Homo sapiens: one gene and its partner. The protein of the gene in region 1 purifies or fractionates together with the protein of each later gene. This does not show direct contact. Each region holds a gene or a part of one and is shown in the gene's direction. Other genes may lie near its edges.

Region 1 (3,653 bases):
TCGCACTGTTGCCCAGGCTGGAATGGAATGGCACAATCTCGACTCACTGCAACCTCTGCCTCCCAGGTTCAAGCGATTCTCCCACCACAGCCTCCTGAATAACTGGGACTACAGGCACGTGCCACCATACCTGGCTAATTTTTGTATTTTTAGTAGAGATGGGGTTTCACCATGTTGGCCAGTCTGGTCTCAAACTCCTGACCTCAGGTGATCCTAAGGATCACCACCTCGGCTTCACAAAGTGCTGGGATTACAGGCATGAGCCACTGTGCCTGGCCTAGGGGTACTTTCCTTTAGGCGAAACCTTGCTCTGTAGAGGCCCAGTGTATAAAATAGATCTTCCTGGAGCAATTTGAAAATCAGTGGAATAGACGCTACGACGCTCCTTCAGCTCTGAAAAGCACTGAGCTGTAGACATTTAAGGAGGATGAAGTTGGAAAGATTCATGAGTTCTCAACTTGAATGAAGTGAAAGTGGGATGAATCTTCCCCCATGCTTCCTTCAGAGCTTTCTTCCTAAGAGAAATCTAAGAGAGCTCTTAAAATGACACCTGGGTCCGGGCGTGGTGGCTCACACCTGTAATCCCAGCACTTTGGGAAGCCAAGGTGGGCGGATCACGAGGTCAGGAGTTCAAGACCAGCCTGGCCAACATGGTGAAACCCCATCTCTACTAAAATACAAAAAATTAGCCATGCGTGGTGGCACATGCCTGTAATCCCAGCTACTTGGGAGGTTGAAGCAGGAGAATTGCTTGAACCCGGGAGGCGGAGGTTGCAGTGAGCTAAGATTGCGCCATTGCACTCCAGCCTGGGCAACAGAGTAAAACCCTGTCTCAAAATAATAATAATAATAATGACACTTGGGTAGCCTGGGCCTACTGGGCTGGCTCCCTGTAGGAAATAAACTAAACCTGAGACTTGGTCTAATCCATAGAGAGATGATGACGCAGGCTTAGTATAATGCAGGTGCCCACTCTGTAGAATGTTTCTTTTCATACCTGTGCCACCTTGAGCAGGGCTCTGCTTTTCTTTGCATTTCCACCAAGGGGAACAGCTTCCCTAGGCTCTGCAGGCAGCATGGGTTTTGTAGTAGAGATGAAGAGGGGGCTGCAGTTACAGCGACATGGAAATATCTCCACTTAACGTCGCAGGCCTTCTCGGCTCTCCTTGTTCCTGCTAGCCTCTAATGGCCTTCAGTTCCAGTGCCTCCTTCTCCATCTGGGGTCCCTCACTCTTACTCTTCCAGAGGTGTATATTCAGACCATGCCCTGCTTAGCAAATAGGACTGGGATCCACCCTTTTTAGACTGCAGCAAGGATTAGGCATACTTTCCATCTTCAAAAAGCTGGTGACTCCCAGAATAAAGGCCAGTGTCTTCTGTGTTTGTGAGGGGCAAGGTCAATCTGGTTTGGGGACACAGAAGTGATCACAAAGAGAAACTGCTTCTACAGAGAGTGCTGGGATTTTCAGGTGACTGCAGCAACAAGGAGTGTTCCTTCCTCCATGTGAAGCCAGCTTTCAAGTCCCAGGACTGTCCTTGGTATGACCAAGGTTTCTGCAAGGACGGTGAGGCCTTGGAAGCCAGGGAGCCCTAGGGGCTGTGGGGATCAGGGTGGGAGCTCTCAGCAGGGGAGGGGCCATTTTCCTGATGAGGCTGTGCCTTGGAGAAACCCCAAATAGAAGGCCTTTCTGTAGTTCTCCTCCAGCTCTGCTGTGACACACAAAACACAGCCTGGTGTGGGGCCATAACAGGCTTGAGGCAGACTGACTTGGGTTCAAATCCTACCTTCAGCATGTATCAGCTGCATGCCTTTCTCCAAGTTACTGAACCACACAGGAAGCTCTTGACACAGGGTCAGGCCCATAGGAGACGCTTAGTTCATGTGTGCTCTCTTCCGCATTCCACTTACCCACCTGGGGGGTCCTGAGTGTTGCTTAAGCATGTCCTACCTTTCCCATTGCTGCCAGCCAAATTTAAGAGGCAGCTTACCCCAGCAGGGTTCCCATGCCCTAAGCAACAGGGTTTCTCCCTCTCCTTTGTCTTCAGATAGGTTTTTCTTACGGAGTTCTTAGTGCTGTTGGTTTTAGGGATCTGGGCGGGGGTGAGGGCTGCTGAGAAGATCAGTAGGATTGTGGGGTTAGCTTTTTTCTTTCTATCACCCAGGTTGGAGTGCAGTGGTGCGATCTTGGCTCACTGCAACCTCCACCTCCCAGGTTCAAGCAATTCTCCTGCCTCGGCCTCCCAAGTAGCTGGGGTTACAGGTGTGTGCCACCATGCCCAGCTAATTTTTGTATTTTTAGTAGAGACAGGGTCTCACCATGTGGCCCAGGCTGGTCTCGAACTCCTGGGCTGAAGTGATCCACCCACCTTGGCCTCCCAAATGCTGGGATTACAGGTGTGAGCCACCCCACCCGGCCAGGTCAGCTTTTTCTCAGCTGTACCTCCCATACTTAAATAAATAAAAGGCAACAAAGTGTGGTTCATATCCATGCAGTCCTCCAGGACACAGCATGTCAGTGACATTTCCAACTCTATTTCAGAACTTGCCAGCTGACACCTGCTCCAGCACATTCCAAGGTTCCTTTTCCCCATCCCTGTCTCATGGCTAGAAGTGGATGCTTTAGGGTGGTACAGAAAGGATGGGAAGATTTATCCACCCCTATTAAGTGAAGCCCCTATGACCATCCACACCCTTCCTAGGGAGCTTTTTCATGTGTGTTTTCCCCTCTTGCTGAAGCGGATCCTTCTCATCACTTTCTCTTTGCTCAGCAGGTCCTCTGTGTAAATACCGCCATGTCCCCAGAATAATGTGTCTCAACTATTTAGTTGGCTTCTGCCCCGAGGGACCCAAGTGCCAATTTGCTCAGTAAGTATGATCCCTCAGTTACCAACTCCCACCAGAGTGCTAGGCCTGGCCTTCTAGTTCTAGATCTTTCCATACCTTCGCTGGTCCTTAGTGGAAAATGAAGCATCTGGCAAGCATCCGCTCCAGTATTTTCCTGGCACCACTGCCTGACCCTGGCAATCTCAGAACTCTAACCCATCCTCTTAATGTGTATTCATGCTGGGGATAGGTGTCGATCTTTTCACAAACTGTTCTAGTAATAAGAGAAGAAACACTTAATGCCCATTTCTCCCCAGTCCTCTGTAATTCTCCCTCACGCCCTGGCTAAGGGAGGGCAACTTCCCTACAGGGTTCTGAAATATGAAATCTGCAGCAGGCTGGCGCAGAGCATGTTAATGAGCAGAAGATGGGAGGGCGAGAGCTGGGCTGTAATCGTCTCTCTCTCCACTTCCCTTAGTCCCAAGATGAATCTTTTACTCAACCCGAGTTACATGAAGGTGAGTGCAGGCAGGCACGTGCCGTCATCCCTCATCCCTTTATTCCCACTCCTTTCTGCTCCCCAGGGAAGCTCACCCAGCAGCACTGCATGGTTCCCAGCGAACCCTCACTCTCCTTTGAAAGGCATGTCATCATGCATGTGGGACACATATATGTGGTTGTTCCTCCCAGACTACTCTCCAACCTCTAGAATCTCTGCTGTGGGTAGGGTAGGACTTCTCTGTTGACCAGTCCAAGGCTTTCCTTCTGCTAGCTGGGTAGCACGCATGGTTTTTGGAATCAGGGCTGGCCCTGATTGAGAACTGTGCTC
Region 2 (3,653 bases), on another chromosome or scaffold:
TACAAATAAAATTACGGTAATTAATAAATACTCCGGAATACCCTTGGCTTGTCTACCGTCCCACTTTTACTCCCCAAATAAATCGCTTCCCTATAAAAGTGGTTAAATGCTATATGATAGTTTAAAAATTCCATTTTGTTTACCATGTTTGTTTTTCCCTTCCCTCCCTTTTAGAGTTTCGTATTTAATGATTATCTGATGTTCTTACTTTCAAATCACAGACTAGCCACAGCTAGTTTGTCTTTATATGGCCTATTAATTAAATATTATGTGGTATCTTAATGGGGAATATGTTATTTAACTTAGGCCGAAGACTGTACTATGGAAGTTACACCAGGTGCAGAGATCCAAGATGGCAGATTCAATCTTTTTAAGGTGAATTTTAGTAAATTATCCTTGGTTGCTCTCATTTTTTGTTCTTGAGTCTGCTCCCATGCCACTACTCAAGGGACAAGATTAAAGTGGAAATAGCTACCTTTTTTCCAAACCTTCAGCTTCCTGGTGACTTACAAATTTGCTGATTGTTGTTTTATCTCCACTTTTGCAAGCATGTGAATTTATAGCCTATTATACTAACAAATGCCGAGTAAAACTATTGTTTGCTATATGTTGTGATTTCATTTTGAGTCGTAATACATGTTTGTAGGATAGAAAAGTTAGTGGCAACAGATTATGCTCTCATTGTAGATAATACTCTAATCTTTATCAACAGAATTGGAAACTTTTTTGTTCTCTTTAAAAAAATGGTAAGGAAGGTGGCATACTGTTTATCTCTATGACACTTATAACACTGATATCATTGGTGTAATGCCCTGATAGCTCAAGATATCTTCAAAAATCTTAGGCATTCTCTGAGAGGCTTTAAGAACTCAACATAATGAGATACTGCCATTGATTTTAAAAATTTGTTCTTAAAAGGAGTAGGTTTATGTGAGAGACTTTGAGGTTGATACTACAACTTGTATAACAAGTCTGATTTCTGGCTTCTCCATTCCATGGTATGATCACAGACCCAGTCCAAAGAATAATACTATATTGTCATAGTTCTTTTATGGAAAACTGATTGTGTACTCTTTTTTCTTTACCTTAATAGTTGACTCTTATATTGAATGACACTGGGATGAAGATTGGGAGTGGCTTTTAGATTGGGTTGTATACTCAGGGAACTTTAGTGGACTGGAAAGAGACCACTGCTCCCCTTTTGGGTTTGCAGCCCTGTCCACCAGAATACTGCCTTATGCAGTGTGTGTGCTATGTCTGCAGATACAACCACTCTACTGTACACAGTTCTATATAGATAATTTTATTTTAATTTACATCCTACTTTGCGTAAGTATTTGGTTCTTCTTTTGCAAATATTTTGAAAGTATGTGATGATGTCTGTTGTGTTTTAAAGGGTCATCAGTTTTTTCTGGGTTATATTGTCTATATAGGCATTGAATATATTAAACTTGACTGCAATGGGTAGAAAAGTTGTCTTAATGAACTAGTTCATTAGCAGCAGTGCATTTTATTTTCTTTTAATAGAAATGAGAACTGCCATCATAAACTGTTAGCTTCTGTATACTTCATTTTTTGTAGTAGACTTAAAAAGAGAATAAAAAGAAACTCCTAGGGGTCAGTCTCATTGAAGGTAGCCGTTATGAATGTGTATTTTATATACATACTGTGTACTGAAAAATTTATTTTGAAGTTTCTTTTGGCTATGTGAGAGGAGGTCATAGAGTATTCCATTCTGATTGGATTCTGAATGAAAGATTTTAATTCGATGGGTACAGTCTTCATGGTTTTCTTGCCTTGATAGTGTGTTTAAATACTAATATGTTTGGTAGAAATACTGATTTGGGAATAGGGTGTGTATTAAGAATATGTGTGGCAAACATTTTTTCTTTATGTATATTGTGGTCCGTAGGAAATGGTGGAAATAGGGCCATGATGAGCAGGACATTGATTTTAAACTAACCTGCAAACATTTGTGTAGCCAATAGGAAGCTGTTTGAAAGTTCCTGAGCAGTAGAATGAAGTGGCAGATCTGGTATTTAGAAAAGGAACTGGCAGCAGGATGGGCTGTAGAATGAAAGGGGTGTGAAACAGATAGGGAGCTGTTGCCATACTATGGGACTAAAATGAACTAGGGCCTGAACTCACTTATGAGGATGAATGGGCAAAGGAGTGGATTTAAGAATTAAAATTTATTTTCATATCTGCTGCAAATAGAATTTTTTCATCCTTAAGTGTGAGACAGCCCATCAGCCTCTTTAAGATAACTTTATTTACTTTTCATTAAACAATTTGCAAACCCAGTAACAAGTAGAATAGTACACATGAACCCTTAGGTGCTTATCATACAGCTTCAACACTTAACAGTGTTTTGACATTCTTGAGGTAACAGCCTTTTATGTACTTCAATATGAATAAAGTTTTTTTAAAAAGCAAAATAAAAGAAATTTAATAGGTATAAAAATAAAGCCACTCAATTGGGTACAAAAACAATTGTGTAATTATTTAATTAGAGTGAATGGCAAGAGAGAAGTGACTAGTGGGAATAGATAACATGTATGTATGAGAAAACGTTGACTACAACGTTTTCTTAAAATATTTTTTATTCATTTGTGCACATATGCATAGATTTTCCCCCCGGCCCCCCCCCCCCCCCCCGCCCCCGGCTGTGAATGTATGAGCTTTGTCACCAGTTTTCTGAAATTTTACAGTTATGTGTCTTGGTCTGTTTTCATCCATTGTACCAAGCATTCTCGATTTGGAAGCACATATCCTTCACTTATGGAACACTTTCTTCTTTTACTTTTTTCTCTGCTTTCTTTTCTATTCTAGATAATATTGGATATCTTCGAATGGTCTTCTAATTTTTTTTATTGTTTTTCTCTTTTTCATCTTTTCCATTATCTGGGAGAATTTTTTATTCTTATAATGTTATTGTACTTAGTTTTCATTTCTGTTGTTAATTTCCAAGAAAATTTTTCTTTATTATTTAGTTGTAGCATCTTATTATTCATGCCTACAGTAATGCAATATCTTTTTCCCTCCTCTCTCAAAGGATATTAATGATAGGCTGTTTTGTTTCTGTTAGATTTTTCTTTTCCTGCATAGTCTGTTTTCAACTTGATTATTTAAGTTAGTTATTTTTATCTTCTGACTTAGACTTTTCTGAAATGTTTGTTGATTGTTGGCCATTCACTCATGTAACGGTGGGCTGCTAAAATTGATTGGAAGCTCTGTACATCTGAATAGAACTTGCTTGACTGCAGGCTTCACTGGAGGGCTGTTTTTTCACATTCCCTGATGTCAGTATTTTTAGGTGTTTTTCTTTTTGTGGTAATCAGATTTTTTCAGATAAGGTATTCCAGTATTCTATCTAGAGGGTATATACTTGGCTGATGCAAATGTTCTGGTAGCTGGAGCTTTTAATTTCTGAATTTTTGAGGGTCCTGACATGATAATCATTGTCTTTGCTTTCTCATCGCTGACTTAGGATTCAGTTTTCTTTGGTCTGCTCAGTCAGTTACTATTTTTTAATCTAATTTCAAAGTTCTAAATTTTGTTGCTTTCTCAGTTTTTTTCTTATAGGTTGAAACAAAATTGTGATAATTTATTTATGGTTGTCTGTTTTTCCTTTTTTTGACTTTAACATGTAA

The links. Proteins that work in one complex are often made in the same cells at the same time.
Region 2: the proteins of CPSF4L (region 1) and FIP1L1 purify together in Homo sapiens (affinity purification with mass spectrometry; 3 studies listed by BioGRID and IntAct, with this or other methods). This does not show direct contact.

What each region holds. Positions count from the first base shown.
Region 1 is NC_000017.11:73,251,843-73,255,495, reverse strand, and holds part of CPSF4L (putative cleavage and polyadenylation specificity factor subunit 4-like protein), read left to right. Parts: intron 1-1,469; coding exon 1,470-1,565; intron 1,566-2,772; coding exon 2,773-2,866; intron 2,867-3,653.
Region 2 is NC_000004.12:53,391,124-53,394,776, forward strand, and holds part of FIP1L1 (pre-mRNA 3'-end-processing factor FIP1), read left to right. Parts: coding exon 1-16; intron 17-306; coding exon 307-375; intron 376-3,653.